Linked DNA regions of Homo sapiens. Each later gene encodes a partner of the first gene's protein in a complex. Each region holds a gene or a part of one and is shown on either strand. Other genes may lie near its edges. The genes, in order: LRRK2 and RAB29.

Evidence for each region.
Region 2: the proteins of LRRK2 (region 1) and RAB29 are in contact, whole or in part, in a cryo-EM structure (PDB 8FO2), measured with the Homo sapiens proteins. Residues at the interface, in NP_940980.4 of Homo sapiens: Arg361, Lys362, Arg399, Met402, Leu403, Leu406, Met407, His408, Leu437, Ser438, Lys439, Gly440, His442, Leu443, Asn444, Glu447; in NP_001129134.1 of Homo sapiens: Leu7, Val42, Asp43, Phe44, Ala45, Leu46, Arg58, Gln60, Trp62, Leu76, Tyr77.

Annotation. Positions count from the first base shown.
Region 1 is NC_000012.12:40,227,098-40,235,685, forward strand, and holds part of LRRK2 (leucine-rich repeat serine/threonine-protein kinase 2), read left to right. Parts: intron 1-5,176; coding exon 5,177-5,286; intron 5,287-8,528; coding exon 8,529-8,588. UniProt on the Homo sapiens protein: Serine/threonine-protein kinase which phosphorylates a broad range of proteins involved in multiple processes such as neuronal plasticity, innate immunity, autophagy, and vesicle trafficking.
Region 2 is NC_000001.11:205,771,535-205,780,294, reverse strand, and holds the start of RAB29 (ras-related protein Rab-7L1), read left to right. Parts: upstream 1-4,812; 5' UTR 4,813-5,022; exon of another isoform or gene 5,023-5,208; 5' UTR 5,209-5,338; coding exon 5,339-5,462; intron 5,463-7,727; coding exon 7,728-7,799; intron 7,800-8,641; coding exon 8,642-8,760. UniProt on the Homo sapiens protein: The small GTPases Rab are key regulators in vesicle trafficking. Essential for maintaining the integrity of the endosome-trans-Golgi network structure.

The DNA.
Region 1 (8,588 bases):
ACTTAGTATTTCTGCCTAGAGAGTACCAGAGGCAAAGTATGCTGGAAAATAAGGAAGAGTTTTTTTAAAAGTAATTAATTACTTTTTTGGATATATCATAGTTGTATATATTTTGGGGATACATATGCTATTTGATACATGTATACAATGTGTAATGTTCAAATCAGGGTAACTGGAATATCCGTCACCTCGAACATTTTTCTTTGTGTTGGCAACGTTGCAATTTCTTTCTTCTAGCTATTTTAAAATATGCAATGAATTATTAACCATAATTTCCCTGCTATACTATTAAATATTAACTTAATTGCTTGTATCTAATTATATTTTTGTACACATTAACCACCTTCTCTTTATCCCTCCCCATCCTTTCATTTCCAGTCTCTGGTAACCACCATTCTACTCTCTTCCTCCATGAGATCCACCTTTTCCGCTCCTACATATGAGTGAGATTATGCAATATTTTATTTCTGTACCTGGCTTATTTAATTTAACCTAATGACCTCCAGTCCCACCCATGCTGTTGCAAATGACAGGATTTCATTTTTTATGACTGAATAATATTCCATTGTGTATGTATACCACATTTTCTTTTATTTTTAGTTAAGTAATTAATTTAGAGACAGGGTCTCACTCTGTTGCCCAGACTGGAGAGCAGTGGTGTGATCAAAGCTCACTGCAGGCCTGCAATCCTGGGCTGAAGTAGTCCTCCTGCCTCAGCCTCCCAGGTAGCTAGGACTATAAGCATGTGCCACCATGCTCAGCTAATTTTTTTTTCTTTTTTTACTTTTTGTAGAGATGGAGTCTTGCTATGTTGCCCAGGTTAGTTTCAAACTCCTGACCTCAAGTAATCCTCCTGCCTCGGCCTCCATATTTTCTTTGTTAATCTGTTGATAGACATATAAGGTGATTCTGTATTTTAACTATTGTGAACAGGGCTGCAATAAACATGGGAGTTCAGATATATCTTTGATATACTGATGTTCTTTTTTTGGATATATACCCAGCGATGAGATTACTGGATCATATGAAAATTCTCTTTTTAGTTTTTTAAGATACCTCCATACTGTGTTTCATCATGGCTGTGCTACTTTATATTCCCATCAGCAGTGTACCACCATTCCCCTTTTTCTGCATCCTTACCAGCATTTGTTATTTTTTGTCTTTTTGATAATAGCCATTCTGCCTGTGGTGAGATAATATCTCATTATGGTTTTGATTTGCCTCTCCCTAATGATTAGTGAAGTTTAGGATTTTTTTTTCATGTACCTGTTAGCCATTTGTCTGTCTTCTTTTGAGAAATGTCTATTTGGATCTTTTGTCCATTTAAAAATAAGACTTTTTTTTTTTTTTTTTTTTTTGCTAATTGAGTTTTTTTAGTTCCTTATGTATTCTGGTTGTTAATCTTTTGTTGAATGGATATTTTGCAAATATTTTCTCCCTTTCTTTATGTTGTCTCTTCACTTTGTTAATTATTTTCTTTGTTGTGCAGAAGCTTTTTAGCTTGATATAATCCCATTTGCCTATTTTTGTTGTAATTGCCTGTGCTTTTGAGGTCCTACCCCAAAAATCATTGCACAGACCAATGTCCTGTAGCATTTCCCCAGTGTTTTCTTCTAGTAGTTGCATATTTTCAGGTCTGAGATGTAAGTCTTTAATCCATTTTGAAATGATTTGTGTATATGGTGAAAGCTGTGGATCTAGTTTCCTTCTTTTGCACAGCCAATATTTGATTCTCACTGAAATCTCACTGCCCTCCTGGAAATATTACCGGATGTTTTACTGTCATAGCGAAGTGAGAGTAAGCTGCTCACTGAGGATCAAAGAGCTTGTGACAGACCTAAGACTCAAGTCTTCTCACACCTTCAAAATCTCTTTCCATCATACAATCTACTAGCTGCTGAATTCGCAAGCTTTTTGTGCAAGCTAGTAAAAAGCAAAATGGTTTGATACAAATACTGTGGCCATGCTAGGTACAATGACATCAATTTAAATTATCATTGGTCTTAACAAGGGGATGTAGAAAGGGGTCTCCTACTGACATTTTAATACTCACTTAAAAGTAGTATTTTTCCTTCAGATTTCTTTATATTATTAGTATAATTACTGTAAGTATCCTTTACTGCTTTATATGTTGAATTAGCTGGAAGTGCCAAAAGAAAAACTCTTAATGATAAATTTAAGGTATTAAGGTAAATTTCTCCTTCATTTAATTTAATAGTAATTCTTAATTACTATTTAAAATAAAGATTAAGGTTTGTTTCTAGATGCCATTTAACATGATATTCCAGACTGCCAGTTTTATTTTCAAAGTTTGTTTCATATTTTATTAATGTTTCTTCATAAATGACAGTCTTTAGAAAATTGACGGTTAAGCTAGGTGCTTTATATTTTTCTTTTCCTGCCTATCTTTTCACTGTGCTCCTAAATTTTACATCTCTTTATTCTCAAGGGTTCAACCTTTGAAGAAGGGGAGCAAAATAAATGAAAGTGGCTAAAATTTTTTCTTTAACCCCTAGACTCTTTCCTGTTGTGCATTAATTACATGCTTGAGTTTTTAGAATAATTATAATAAAGTAAAACTACCAATTTAATTGTATTGTAACTGTGCAAGATGGGAACCTTCTCTCTTAGAGAGATAAGCTTTTAATTGAATAGATTAATGGATCAATTGTTACCTCTGCTTTGCTGCCAGAGATTCTATTTAATCACAGAAGTTCCATGTAGTGCTGGAGAGCTCAGTTGCCTGAATCTTTTTGCAAAGCGTTTACTGATACTGTTGCTTCACCAACCAAAACAAACAGGTTTTTTCCTTGAGTCAGCTTTGTAGGTACAGAGATGAGTTTGGCATCCTATGTGACTTTTTTTTTTTTTTTTTTTTTTTTTTTTACCACCAGAAGCTGTTCAGAATGTTATTTTCTTAAATAGTTCGGAAAAAAGTCTTGATGTATTCTATGAAAGCACAAAAATAGTCAGTTTCTATGACAGCTGGATTGTCAACGTCTGTTCAGCTTACGTGGAGGAGGATGTCCTACTTGAGTAGTATAGGTAGAAATAGCTATCAGAAATTGCCGCCTTTGAAAGCAATTTGAAATTATGTAAAAGGAAGTAATGACAAAATAAAGCAATTTATGTTTAATCTGGAAAAGATCCAAAAGTAATATTGTAAAGAGATCTTGAGTAATCATTTTTATCTTCCTAAAATAGCCGTTGTTTACTCCCGTAAGCGAGTAAGAAACTTGTGCCATTATTCCTTATTGGGTGCATATAGATTTCTCACCTTGTCATTCAACTCCTTGCAATATTCAACTTTACTTATGCATCCAGCCTTATCCCAAAATAGCCTCTTCCCTGTAGCAGCTTCCTTATCATGTAGCAGCCTACTCTCCTCACCGCTCATCCGTTCTTATACAATCTGGCTTAAGCTCTACCTCTTCATATTATATTCTTCTCTGAGTAATTTCAACTCACACTGAGTCTTACTTTCAGTATTTCTATTATATTGGTATTTATTACACATCACACTTAGATACTTTTCCATTAGTCTCTAGAGGGTACATATATGCACTTTCTCTTTTTTTTTTTTTTTTTGACCATGTCAAGTATAGTTCTATAGTATAATAGAATGAATTGGAGATCCTTTACATTTAGAGAGGGAGGAGTCTACAGTAGGAAGAATAGGTTAATTTTCATCTCCGGTTTGAAATCAGGACTTTCAATTTTTTTTTCAGAGGTAAAGAGCAACTTAGTCAAGTTGGCATCTTGTAAACAGACTGAGTGAAGATATACTTAAAATGCATCTATAATTTCATATTTTATTTCGAAATGTGAAAGAGCCTACTAGGGGTGTCTGTGATCTCTAGACCTTATCAATTCATTCTAGAGAAATCTGGAGGGAGCCATTGAGGAGTTCTACCTCCTGTCTATTTTATAGAGCTCTTTCTCTTTTTCTCCTATCAGATGTAGATTCAATTGCTAAAAATGCCACGTTTCTTGCCTCTATTATTCTAGCTTCATTACTTGGGGAGCAGCCATTCTGATAACTTACATTTTGCTACTAAAATCTCCAACTTCACCTAATCCTTCATTATAAGCCACTTCATTTTTTCCTATAATTAAAATTTTAAATATGTGGAGGAAATTCTGTCAGGTAGATATGACTTAAAACCTACTAAGGGCCAGGTGCAGAGGCTCACGCCTGTAATCCCAGCACTTTGAGAGGCCAAGTCAGGAGGATTGCTTGAGCCCAGGAGCTTGAGACCAGCCTGGGCAACAGAGCGAGACCCCTGTCTTCACAAAAAAAAAAAAAAAAAAATTAGCTGGGTGTGGTGGCACATACCTGTAGTCCCAGCTACTTGGGAGGCTGAAGTGGGTGGATCACCTAAGGACAGGAGTTCTAGGCTGCAGTGATCTATGATTGCACCATTGCACTCCAGCCTGGGTGACAGAGTGAGACCCTATCTCAAAAACAAAAACAAAACCAAAAAAAAAAAAAAAACAAGAAAAAAAAAGTACTAAGGATCTGGTATAGCCATTCTTGCACTTAATAATCTTGGTACAACCTCTAAAACTATTTTTTATAGTTTATTTTATTTTGCCTTATTTAGACAATTGGCATGTCTATGTTCTTCATAATTTAGAAATTATATGTATTTATATATATAAATTATATATATTATATATTATGTATAAATTAAATTATATATATATATAATATATATATATTTGAAATGGATTCTTGCTCTGTCATCCAGGCTAGAGTGCAGTGGCACAATCTTGGCTCACTGCACCCTCTGCCTCCTGGGTTCAAGCGATTCTCCTTCCTCAGCCTCCCGAGTAGCTGAGATTACAGGCGCCCATCACCATGCCTGGCTAATTTTTGTATTTTTAGTAGAGACTGGGTTTCACCATCTTGGCCACATTGGTCTCAAACTGCCGGCTGAAATGTTGTATTTTTTGTATGTCTTTCTGGTATGATTTTTGGAGAAAGGTGTATCCTAAGAATACGGCTTGCTTTTGTTTCTGGGTAAGCATTTTAGGGTATCATTTTGTTGTATAACCATTGTTTACAAGTGAGATAAGCATCTATTCCACTAAGATTGAAGAGATTCATGTTTGACTGAGTATGCTCTATTAACATTCTTTAAAACATGTGAATATATGTCTTTCTTGTTTTCAGGTGGGTTGGTCACTTCTGTGCAAATTAATAGAAGTCTGTCCAGGTACAATGCAAAGCTTAATGGGACCCCAGGATGTTGGAAATGATTGGGAAGTCCTTGGTGTTCACCAGTAAGTATGATAGATATGTAAAACAAATGGCCTTGAGTATTTATTTGTACACATGACAACCTTCCCTTGATACACTGTGTTTGCAATCCAAGGCTACTCCTGTGGAATTCTTTAAAATACAGATATTTTTCCTTGAGTCAATGATTTACATTTATAGAGAGCTTTAAACTCAGAAGTTTGATTTAGAAAGCAAACATTTAAGGTAACATGTCAGAAGTTATTATTTTAATAATATAATCATATAATTATAAAACTGGTTAAGTTGTAGATTTTTGATGAGTACTTTTGAATTCAAACCATGAAGAGATTTTGGCTTTTAATAATAGAATCGATACAAACCACTAGTTCTTAAAAAAATGGGAACTGAGAAAAGTTAGTTCTGTAAGTAGTAATTTGAAAGTTGATGTTCTACTGTCTTTAAATAGTACATTTATATATATATTCCTATATATACAGTAAGTTTAAACTATGGCTTTCAGAAAGAGTTAAGAAAGAGGAAATTAACTTTCAGCACATCTGTAGCCAAATCTTGATAGTAATTTTACCAGCTATGTTTTTGCAGTTTGCAGCATAATGGCTTCTTAGATGAGACTACTTCCTTAGCCATCATTAATTAAGAAAATATTTTCTCAAGAAGAATGTGTTTCCAGGAAAATACATTTTGGATAGCTTTGTTTCTTGACAGTTAAAAAATATCTTCTAAGCTACTGAGGAGGCTGAGGAAGGAGAATCACTTGAACCTGGGAGGCGGAGGTTGCAGTGAGCGGAGGTTGCAGTGAGCCGAGATTGCACCACTGCACTCCAGCCTGGGTGACAGAGCGACACTCTGTCTCAAAAACAAACAAACAAACAAACCTTTTGTCATTAACTTTAAATCTTTTTTATACCTAATATGACTTTTCTTTATCACAGAAAAGGAAATTGTGAATATTTTTTGGCTTCCAATGGTATATGGTTTATGAAAATTTAATTTATGAAAAATTTTCAGGTGTTTGTATTGCTGATCAGTGTCAAGTAGTGCTATAAATTTAGACAAATTAGAGCTATGTGTTTGTCCATAAGTGAACATGTCTGTGCTTATACATTTTCCCCTCTTTGACAAATGTGTTGCTCTTCTTGTTTTCAGTACATAAAGGGTGTGTTTTGGAAAGAGCATATTTACAATTAATTGGAGTTCTCGTCTTCAATCTAATCTCTGTAATTCTATGTATCAGTTCTAAAGTATACAGCATTTGATGAGGAATTACTCAAAATATACCAGTAATTAGGAATTGTAACTTTAAATGTCCCTTGGTTTGGGTGATAATTTCCAGGAAGTCCAAAGATGAGCCAGTCTATAACCTCAGGGAGTGTTTGGGAAACTCATCTAGTCATATTCCTGTACAAACCAACTGTTCAAATTAAATTACATAAAAGTTTATGTAGGAAATTTCATTCACTCACTCACTTACTCATTCACTCACTTTGTTCATCCAGTCATTCATCTTCTATTCATTGAATGTTTTTGAAGCCTGTCCTCTGGGTCAGAAACCATGCAGTTGTGAAGAAGATAGACACACTGCTGTCTCCAGTGGAGTGTATTAGATCACTCCCAGCAAAAATTGATTGTAAAACAGATTTCTCTTTTTTCAAGGCCTTTTCCCTCCAAAGACTTACCAGTACTGAAGAAAAATTTCTTCCGTGGTAATAAAGTCAGGAATTGTGGGAATGGTATAGGGAGAGGTAGGGGCAGGGTGATTAGGAGGAAGGCTGGCAGAGAATCGAAGACTGGCTTCATTCAGGTCCTCCAATTGCCAAATGGAGATTATGCAACGTTTCTTGAATACATACAAAACTCTAGATGTGGCCAGCTCAGTCTTCTTCCAATAATGTAAAGCCAAACAATGCTTTGCAGGAATAGACTAGAGATTATATTTTGGGATTAATAACATAGGGATTAAAATCTTATCTTGAACTAACTAAACATTATTGATATGCTAAATTCACTTTTTTTTTTTTTTTTTTTTTTTTTTTTTAGACAGAGTCTTTCTCTGTTGCCAGGCTGGCGTGCAGTGGCGTGATCTCGGCTCACTGTAACCTCTGTGTCCCGGGTTCAAGTGATTCTCCTGCCTCAGCCTCTCGAGTAGCTGGGACTGCAGGAGTACGCCACCACGCCCAGCTAATTTTTGTATTTTTAGTAGAGACAGGGTTTCATCATGTTGGCCAGGATGGTCTTGATCTATTGACCTCATGATCCCCCCGCCTCGGCGTCCCAAAGTGCTGAGATTACAGGCGTGAGCAACGGCCACCGGCCCACTACTTTTTAATATATCATTAATTTCTCTTTTAAAAACAGTAGCAATCAATAATTTAAATATTCAAATGAATTCTTAATTTATATACACAAACTAACATCTTTATTATATCTCTATATTTTAATATATCAACATGTCTAAGATAATTTATAAATTTACATCATATATAAAAATGGGTTTGCTCTCGATGTATATAAGGCTTCATGATATTTTGAATATGGAGTTGGGTGAAAATAGTGAATCTGAATATTTGAATTTGAATATTTATTGGAAAATAAGTAGTGCTTTTAACTTTTTAAATGAGACACATAATAGTCCCCTGTTGATTTTTTTTTATTTTTTTAACTTTATTAAAGTATAGTTGACAATTAAAAATTGTTTATATTTAAGGTATACAATTGATGATTTGACATGTGTACATTGTGAATTATTCACCACAATCAAGCTAATTAACATTCCCTGTTAGTTTTTATAAGCCTGGTTCAGGTTTGTAGAAAGAAACAAACACACATGGCCAGGCACGGTGGCTCACACCTATAATCCCAGACTTTGGGAGGCCAAGGCAGGAGGATCACTTGAACCCAGAAGTTTAGACCAGCCTAGGCAAAATAGCAAACCCTGTCTCTCCAAAAAAGAATGAAAAAATTAGCCTGGTGTGGTGGCATGTACCTGTATCCCTAGCAACTCAGGAGGCTGAGGCAGGAGGATTGCTCACTTGAGCCCAGGAGTTTGAGGTTTCAGTGAGCTATGATTGCACCATTGCATTCCAGCCTGGGTGACACAGCAAGACCCTGTCTCTAAAAGCAGGCAACAAAAACACATGAGCTTCACTACAGGGAATTAAATACAATGAGAGTAATAAAAAATAGGTGAGCAAAAAAAATGCAAATAAGCAAACTTTTGAGTATGATATTTCATTCTTATCTTGATTTCTGTTTTTAACTCCAGATTGATTCTTAAAATGCTAACAGTTCATAATGCCAGTGTAAACTTGTCAGTGATTGGACT
Region 2 (8,760 bases), on another chromosome or scaffold:
GGTTGCTTATATAAGTTAAATAGTTACAAATTGGTCACATAGTTAAGTGACCAAAGTGCAAATAGAATATAAATGCTACAGGCCAGGTACAGTGGCTCACACTTATAATCCCAGCACTTTGGGAGGCCAAGGCAGGCAGATGACAAGATCAGGAGTTCGAGACCAGCCTGGCCAATACGGTGAAACCTTGTCTCTACTAAAAATACAGAACTTAGCAAGGCATAGTGGCACGTGCCTGTAATCTCAGCTACTTGGGAGGTTGAGGCAGGAGAATCACTTGAACCCGGGAGGCGGAGGTTGCAGTGAACCAAGATAGCACCATTGCACTCCAGCCTGGGTGACCAGAGAGCGACTCCCTCTCAAAAACAAAAAAAAGGATAGGCCGGGCGTGGTGGCTCACGCCTGTAATCCCAGCACTTTGGGAGGCCGAGGCGGGTGGATCACAAGGTCAGGAGATCAAGACCATCCTGGCTAACACAGTGAAACCCTGTCTCTACTAAAAAATACAAAAAAAAAAAATTAGCCGGGCGTGGTGGCGGGCGCCTGTAGTCCCAGCTACTCGGGAGGCTGAGGCAGGAGAATGGCGTGAACCCGGGAGGCGGAGCTTGCAGTGAGCCCAGATCGCACCACTGCACTCCAGCCTGGGTGACAGAGCGAGACTCTGTCTCAAAAAAAAAAAAAAAATTAAAAAATTAAAATAAAAAAATAAATGCTACAGGTGACCAATAAAGGCTGCAATAATAAGGGAAATGTTTATAAATAAGTAGATATTTAAGTCAGGCCTTGAAGCACCATTTCTCAAAAGTACTATTTCTCAAAGTGGAATGTGGTGTAGCAATCACATGAGTACTTGTCAAAAATGCAGATTAACCTGGGTCACCCCCTAGCCCTACAGAATCAAAATGTGGGTATTTAACAAGTACCCCAGGTAGGTGATGCTTATGCACACTAAAATTTTAGAACCTTCGGTGACCTTTAAGACAATCCACTCCCACTTAGTGAATAATATAGTTTCTCTTCCTTTTGATTTTCTTAATAATATTTAAGTAAGATTTAGATGTGTAGAAAGAAACCTGAAGAGTATTCTGAAAGGTGATGCATCCTGGACAAAAACAGAAAATCAAAAATGACATTGGGCTTTAAAAGAGCATAAGGAACCTCACCTTGTTGGAAGAAGGAAACTCCCATTTGAAGTCGGGTGAGATAAAATTGGTTAGGTAGGCCGGGGCAGGTGCATAGAAAGCTTTGGACACCAGCTTCAGGGAGGTTGGCCTTTTTTTTTGAAAGACAGTTGGTAGACAAGGAAGAACAAACAATGGTGTTTTAGGAAAACCATCCTGTCCAGTTGTAGACGGTGAGTTAAAAAGAAAATAAATTCAGGGAGACCAATAAACAGGTTACTGCAGGAATCCAGGTGTGAGATGGTGAAAGCCTGAACTAGGAAAGTGTTACTTGCTGATTACCTGGGTGACAAAATTATCTGTAAGCCAAACTCGCGCAACATGCAGTTTACTCGTGTAACAAACCTGCACATGTACCCCTTGAACCTAAAATAAAAGTTGGAGAAAAAAAAAAAAGGAAAGTATTACTGAATATGAAGCAGAGAGGATGAGTGGGAGAAACCATTTACTGAAGAAACAATCAATCAGACATGGTAACTGAATTTTTTTTAAAAGGGTATAGACCAGGTGCGGCGGCTCACGCCTGTAATCCCAGCACTTTGGGAGGCTGAGGCGGGTAGATCACTTGAGGTCAGGAGTTCAAGACCAGCCTGGCCAACATGGTAAAACCCTGTCTCTACAAAAAAAATACAAAAATTAGCCAGGCTTGGTGGTATGCGCCTGTAGTCCCAGCTACGCAGGAGGCTGAGGCACAAGAGTTACTTGAGCCCAGGAAGCAGAGGATGCACTGAGCCAAGATCATGCCAATGCACTCCAGCCTGGACAACAGAGTGAGACTCCATCTCAATAAACAAACAAACAAATAAATAGGTATAAAGGGACATGTGTAAAGGAAATAATAATGCTCAGAATCTGAAGTCTACATGGAGGCAAGAAATGATGAGACCAGTGACAGAAATAGGGAAGCTGAGAAAAGGAGCTATTTTTATGGCAATGTAGTAAGAGGAAGGATGTGGCAGGACATCCAAGTGGGGGCACCTTTTGGGCAGCTGAATATCACTGATCAGAGATAAAGAACAAATAAAGTGTTAATGGTAGCTATGATAGCGGTTATCACCAGTGCCGTGAGTATTCCTTCATTAAGGGCTGACACAGAGAACAATTATACTTATTGGGTATATTTATCAATCTTGGCTGGCAATAATGCCTGGATGCAATCACTTTATGACGCAGTTACACATGCTTTCTGATCTCAGTATTTACCATAATAAATCTGCTCCTATAATTGAGGCATACCGCCCTCAAAAACTTATTTGTAAACAGGATTGGACCCAGTTAGAAAAAATGAACGTACTTGTTTAGGAAGATTGCATTGCAGAACAGGCAGAGATGCTGCACAATGATTCCTATGGAATCATTATTAATTGGTCCCCTAAGGGGATGTTTAGCTTGAATTGCACCTCTCAGTCTGCGTGCCACGGCCACACTATGTTCAGCTGGTCTGAACAAAATGGTCAGATGGTAGATATAATAAGAAGTACAGCAAGAGTTCCTATTATCTGGAACCATGGCAGTATAGTGACACCTCAACCTCAAATGATATGGCCCGCTCTAGGAGCTTAACATAAGGATTTAAAATTAAAAGAAGAAATATTTAAAGCATCCGAGGCACACTTGACCTTAATGCCAGGAACTGGAGTGCTTAAAGGAGCCGAAAATGGATAAAAACACTTGGAAGCTCTGTGATTTCAATGATGATTGTGCTTTTAATCTGTGTTGTTTGTCTTTGTATAGTCTGCAGATGTGTATCCTGACTCCTGCGAGAAGTAGCTCACCGTGACAAAGCTGCCTTTGCATTTATCAATTTGCAAATCAGAGAAGAGGGACATGTTGAGAGCAGGCCCCCCAAAATCTGGCCATAAACTGGCCCCAAAACTGGCCATAAACAAAATCTCTGCAGCACTGTAACATGTTCATAATGGCCCTAACGTCCACGCTGGAAGGTTGTAAGTTTACAGGAACGAGGGCAAGGAACACCTGGCCCGCCCAGGGTGGAAAACCGCTTAAAGGCATTCTTAAGCCACAAACAATAGCATGAGTGATCTGTGCCTTAAGGACATGCTCCTGCTGCAGTTAACTAGCCCAACCTATTCCTTTAATTCGGCCCATCCCTTCGTTTCCCATAAGGGATACTTTTAGTTAATTTAATATCTATAGAAACAATGCTAATGACTGGTTTGCTGTTAATAAATACGTGGGTAAATCTCTGTTCGGGGCTCTCAGCTCTAAAAGCTCTAAAGGAAATCAGACCCCTGATTTCCCACTTCACACCTCTATATTTCTGTGTGTGTGTCTTTAATTCCTCTAGCGCCACTGGGTTAGGGTCTCCCCAACAGAGCTGGTCTTGACAGAATATCACTGATCAGAGATAAAGAACAAATAAAGTGAAGATAGATCTTTGACACCAAGGACAATTCACTAAAGAGTTTATCGAATGATTGACTCAGAGACCAAGAATCAGGCCTTAGGAAATACTTAGCGGGAAATGGGATGGAGAGAAACCTGAAAGAAAAAGATAATCATCAGAGAAGTACGGGGATGACAAAGAAAGAACAGCGTCATAGAAGGCATAAGGGAAACAAATGTCAAGGAGTGGTCAACTATGTCAAAACGAATAAGAACAGAGAAAACTGGATCCTTAAAGATGAGTAGCTTGAACTAACCTCCTGTACCTGGGTAACGAACATTCTGGGCAAAATATATTGTGAACCATGCTGATGTTCTTTCGCCACAAAACATAAGTGATAGCCTCTCTATCAAGAGACCTAGATTTCCTAGTGTCTGGTCCTGGGCTGTTTTCCCATGGCCCCGCTGGTTCTCTTCCTCTATTCCTAGAAAAGTATAGAAAATGGAGCTCTCTTTGCTTGCCATTGAGCTCATGTCCTGCCAACTTCTACCCAAGTGACAGGTAGGTCAGTAAAGTTACAGGCTGAGAAATTAAAATTATTTGCCAAACACTAGTTTTATGATTATCTATTAACAACAGCCACAACAAATCAAGAAGGAGTCCCAGTGTATTTCAATTAGCTTCTAGCTCAAGTGATACATGAGTAGTATGGCTAGAATAGGCATTGTAGAAGTATGAATGGAGAACTGTCTCTTGTTTTCTGTCCATCTTTATTGTTATTGCTGGATATTAAATGCTGTAATTTTTGGCATAGGTTTTTTTCCAAAGACTGGTCTCTTGGGTCAAGTTTTCCTGAACTTGCCTGGTATTGGGCAAGTTCACACAGAAAATATGAGTCATTTCACAAAGTCCTGGGCTTGTCTATCTACTTGAAGGAATAGGAAATGGACTTCACTTGGAGCATGATGGATGAGGCTTGGGCTTTTACTAATGAAATAAGTTTCAATCTTAACTCAGTTAAACCTTTAAAGACAGGAGAAAACTATCTGGGGATGGATTCAGGCCAGTGAGATCACGTTGCACAAATCTCCCCTTAAGGGATCTTTACTGACCTAGAATTGTTTCAAAATAAGATTCCAAACTGTCGAGGGAGTTTGAAGCCTTGAAACTTGGTGTAGGTTTGCTTAAAACAAAATAACGAATATACTACATTTCCCAGGAGGCTTCGCGGTGAGCCTCCGCACTCGGCTGGTTCTCTTTACCGCGAGGAAAGCTGGGAAATGTAGTGCCACAGGCAACCCTGCACGTGACGCTTGCGGAGGAAGGGGAGAGAGAGGCGCGCGGGAGGGCGTCTAGGGAATCGAGGTGCCGGCTGCTCCTTCCTCACAATTTGGTTTGTGCTGCAAGGGGAGGGTCCCCATCATCTGGCCCCAGTGGTGTAAGGAGCTGACTGGGATTCAGTCACTGACTTGGAGCCGCTCGGGGGAAGTCCCGGTGGGTGAGGTTCCGCGGCGCCTGGTCCAGTTTCTCGGCAGTCAGGCCAGGAGGGGGTGGGGAAGGTGCGAACAGCCGGGGGCTCGGAGCTCGCGCCCTGCGCCCCACCCAGGTTGCGGCCGCCCGGGGAGGAAGCGCGTATAGGTTGAGTGCAAAGTTTCCTTTTTTGCTTTCTCGTCAGAGCAGCCCAGACAGGCGGTGGGTGGGAATGCCTCACTTCAGTTTGAAGAGGGTCCGGATCCAAAGGGGTTAAAACGAGCGACCCCCGATCCCCGACCACACTTCCCGCCTCCCTAAAACGCACACCCCGCTAGCCATGGGCAGCCGCGACCACCTGTTCAAAGTGCTGGTGGTGGGGGACGCCGCAGTGGGCAAGACGTCGCTGGTGCAGCGATATTCCCAGGACAGCTTCAGCAAACACTACAAGTCCACGGTGGGAGGTGAGACGTCTCGGGGGTGGGGAGGGGGAGGGGGAGGAGGAGGCCCCGACCGCGGACTCGAGCTGGGGACCCAAGTGGGGTGGGGATTTGCTGTCGGTTGTTGGGTCCTTCTTCGGGTCAGGAAGTACTGTCTGGGAACCTAGATGGTGTAATTGCCGGGTGTTTGGTTTACACGCCTCTCTTGAGTTTCCCGTTAGATTTTCCCAAACTGAGCCCACTGCCAGGAGAAAGGTAAGAGCAAAGGCGTGAAGATGAGAAATAGGGAAGGGAGGATGAGGATGAGCAATTGCTGTTTATTGCAGGCGTACTGTGAACTTAAGTCTCCAGCCTTTCAGCTGTCCGGCAAATCTCTCCAATCAGCAGAAGCAGCTGAGATCCTCTGTGGGGCCTCCTGGTTAGGTGCCGGCTGGGGCTGTAGTCCTGCCCCTCTGTTGAGGGAGGAACCGCAAGGTGTTTAACCTGGCTTCAGTGGGAGAACGCAGGAAGCGGAACTGGTCTGAAGGACTGTAGCTTTGTTGTGGGGCTGTGGGTGGGATGGAAGACACAAAATCCCCGAACGAGCCCCTTGGCTACGCAGTCAGATGCCCATGAGGGCTGATGAGCTGTGTTTTTGTCCGTTGATTGCTTAAATAAAGGTAACCAAGGAATTCTTCCAAGAATGTGAAATATACCACTTCTCTGACCTATCTTCCCACCACTTTTTTCCTCAAACTGGAGAAGGTAGGGAGGAAGGGGACACCGAGTTCATTCATTTCTTTCCCGGGTGTGGCCTTTGGACTCAACTATTTTTTCAGAGGCAGAAATGCCTTATTGTTAATTAGAAGGTATTTAGCTAGGAAGAGCTGGTGATGGGGGAGAGTAACTTAAAATTTTATTTCTCTCTGTTAAAAGAACTTGTTTCAAGGGGGGAAAACTCGTACCAATGGAAAAATTGAAAATGTGTGCTCCTGTTCATATGGAAGTTTAAAAAGAAATTAACAAACATTTACATTGCAATTAAAACATTCTCCTTAAGAACCCCCAGTAGGGCCCAGTACCGTGGTTCATACTTGCAATCCCAGCACTTTAGGAGGCTGAGGCGGGAGGATTGCTTGAGCCCAGGAGTTCGAGACCAGCCATGGGAAACATGGCAAGACCCCCACCTCTACAAAAATTAAAGAAGAAAGTAGCCGTGGTCCCAGCTACTCGGGAAACTGAGACGAGAGGATTGCTTGAACTGGGGAGGTCGAGGCTTCAGTGAGCCCCGTTCGCACCACTCACTGCACTGTAGCCTGGGCAACAGAGTGAGACCCTGTCTCAAAAACAAAGGAACAAAAAATTTAAGTCTGGCAAAATTAAAGGTTCAAAGTTTCAGACACTCTATCCTGACCGCTCTGCCCTCCCACTCCTAAATAATATAAGGGTCCCTATTTCACGGATTTGGGTTAAAAGTGGCCTGCTATTAATAGTTAATTTTTAACAATTGCTGTAGTTTTCCTTTAGCAAAGAATATAATTGGCTAATTTTTTTTTCAGTGTTTAGTCTAAATTTCCCTTAGCTTTGATTCCTGTCACAGATGTGAAAGATAATATTTCCAAACCTCAGAAATTACTCTGTTTCTCTCCTTAGCCAAAAGGCTTTCCCCATGGAATACTTACTCAGCCTTAAGGAGTCTCAGCACCTGCAGACTTGGTGGTAGATTCCAGCAGGACTCTTCAGCAACATCCACACAGTGTCTTCTTCTTGGGACTCCTCTGGGACCTTTTCCATTTATTCCATTCTTGCCCAAGATAATACCTGCAACCTTATGGTGGATGTAGAGTTCCCCAGGGTGTGTTCTTTTCATAATACAATTTGATTAGAAACCAACAGTGAAATTGAATGTGGAAGATACGAAAGCAACCACACTTGTCTCATTTCCCCCTTCTCCCCCATCACCCCTTCCCTGAGAAAACCCCCTAAATCTCCCAGAAACTATTTAACCTGAGAATGAGAATTGTTTTCATAGTTACTCCCACCCCCAGTCTTGGAGACAAACAGTAGCAAATAAATGAGCTTGACAGTAGAGTAAAAGCTGGAAACCCCTTTGGAGAGTGAGTATGAATCATCCATCTCACACTAAATACACGCATGTGGACTCATCTCAGTGAATTGAGGGCTTAAAGTTAAACATATGGGATTGGAGTTGTGTGTCCATAGGGTTTCACTGCCTATTTGATTTGAGTTTATCCCTATTAATTTTTTACAGTGAAATTTTATTAAAGTATAATGTACATATATTTTCAGTGGATTTTGCTCTGAAGGTTCTCCAGTGGTCTGACTACGAGATAGTGCGGCTTCAGCTGTGGGATATTGCAGGTAAAGTGGGAGGGCTAGATAGGAACAAGGGAAGAAATTTTGATTTAACTAGAAAGCTCTGAGGAAAAAATGGGGCAGCAAAGCCAGAAATTGTTTTTCTGAAGCTGGAATGATTGAGCTGCTCTGAGGACACATGAGCTGAATAGGTGCAGAGCTTTTGTAGATGTTTTGCCCTGAATAGATCTGGAGCAGTCTCTATGTGGATGGAGGGGCTGGCAAGGTGGTGGATTGTCCAGACTATAGGTGGACACTCCCACAGCAGGGGAGGGTGCTTTTTCTAGGTTTAAGGCTGACCTTGGTGAAAAACAAGATCCCCAGAAAATAGATACAGTAAAAATAGTGAATCCTTACTATGTGCCAAGCATTCTTCTAAGTATTTTAAATTCACTGACTCATTAATCCTCACATCAACCCTATCATAAAAGCTACTGCTTTTGGAGAATTGCTTGAACCTGGGAGGTGGAGGTTGCAGTGAGCCTAGATGGCACCACTGCACTCCAGCCTGGGCAACAGGAGTGCAGGAAACTGTTTCAAAAAAAAAAAAAAAAAGCGACTGCTTTTATCTTCACTTTACAAATGAGAAATCTGAAGCACTGAGAGCTTGATTTGCCCGAAGTCAAATAGTATGCAGCAGAGCAGGGATTTGGACTGGAGCAATCTGGGTGCGGAATCTGCCTTGGAAATAATTGGGCTTCATTATCCCTTTATGGGATAGAAAACCAAGAGTCAGAGGGGGAAAGTGAGTGGCCCCATCTGACACATATGCTTACTGCCCTCTTCTACAAGGAATGGGGAGAGGCCGGCTCTTGGGTCACCTTGAGAACTCTCCCCTTTCTCCCCAGGGCAGGAGCGCTTCACCTCTATGACACGATTGTATTATCGGGATGCCTCTGCCTGTGTTATTATGTTTGACGTTACCAATGCCACTACCTTCAGCAACAGCCAGAGGTGGAAACAGGAC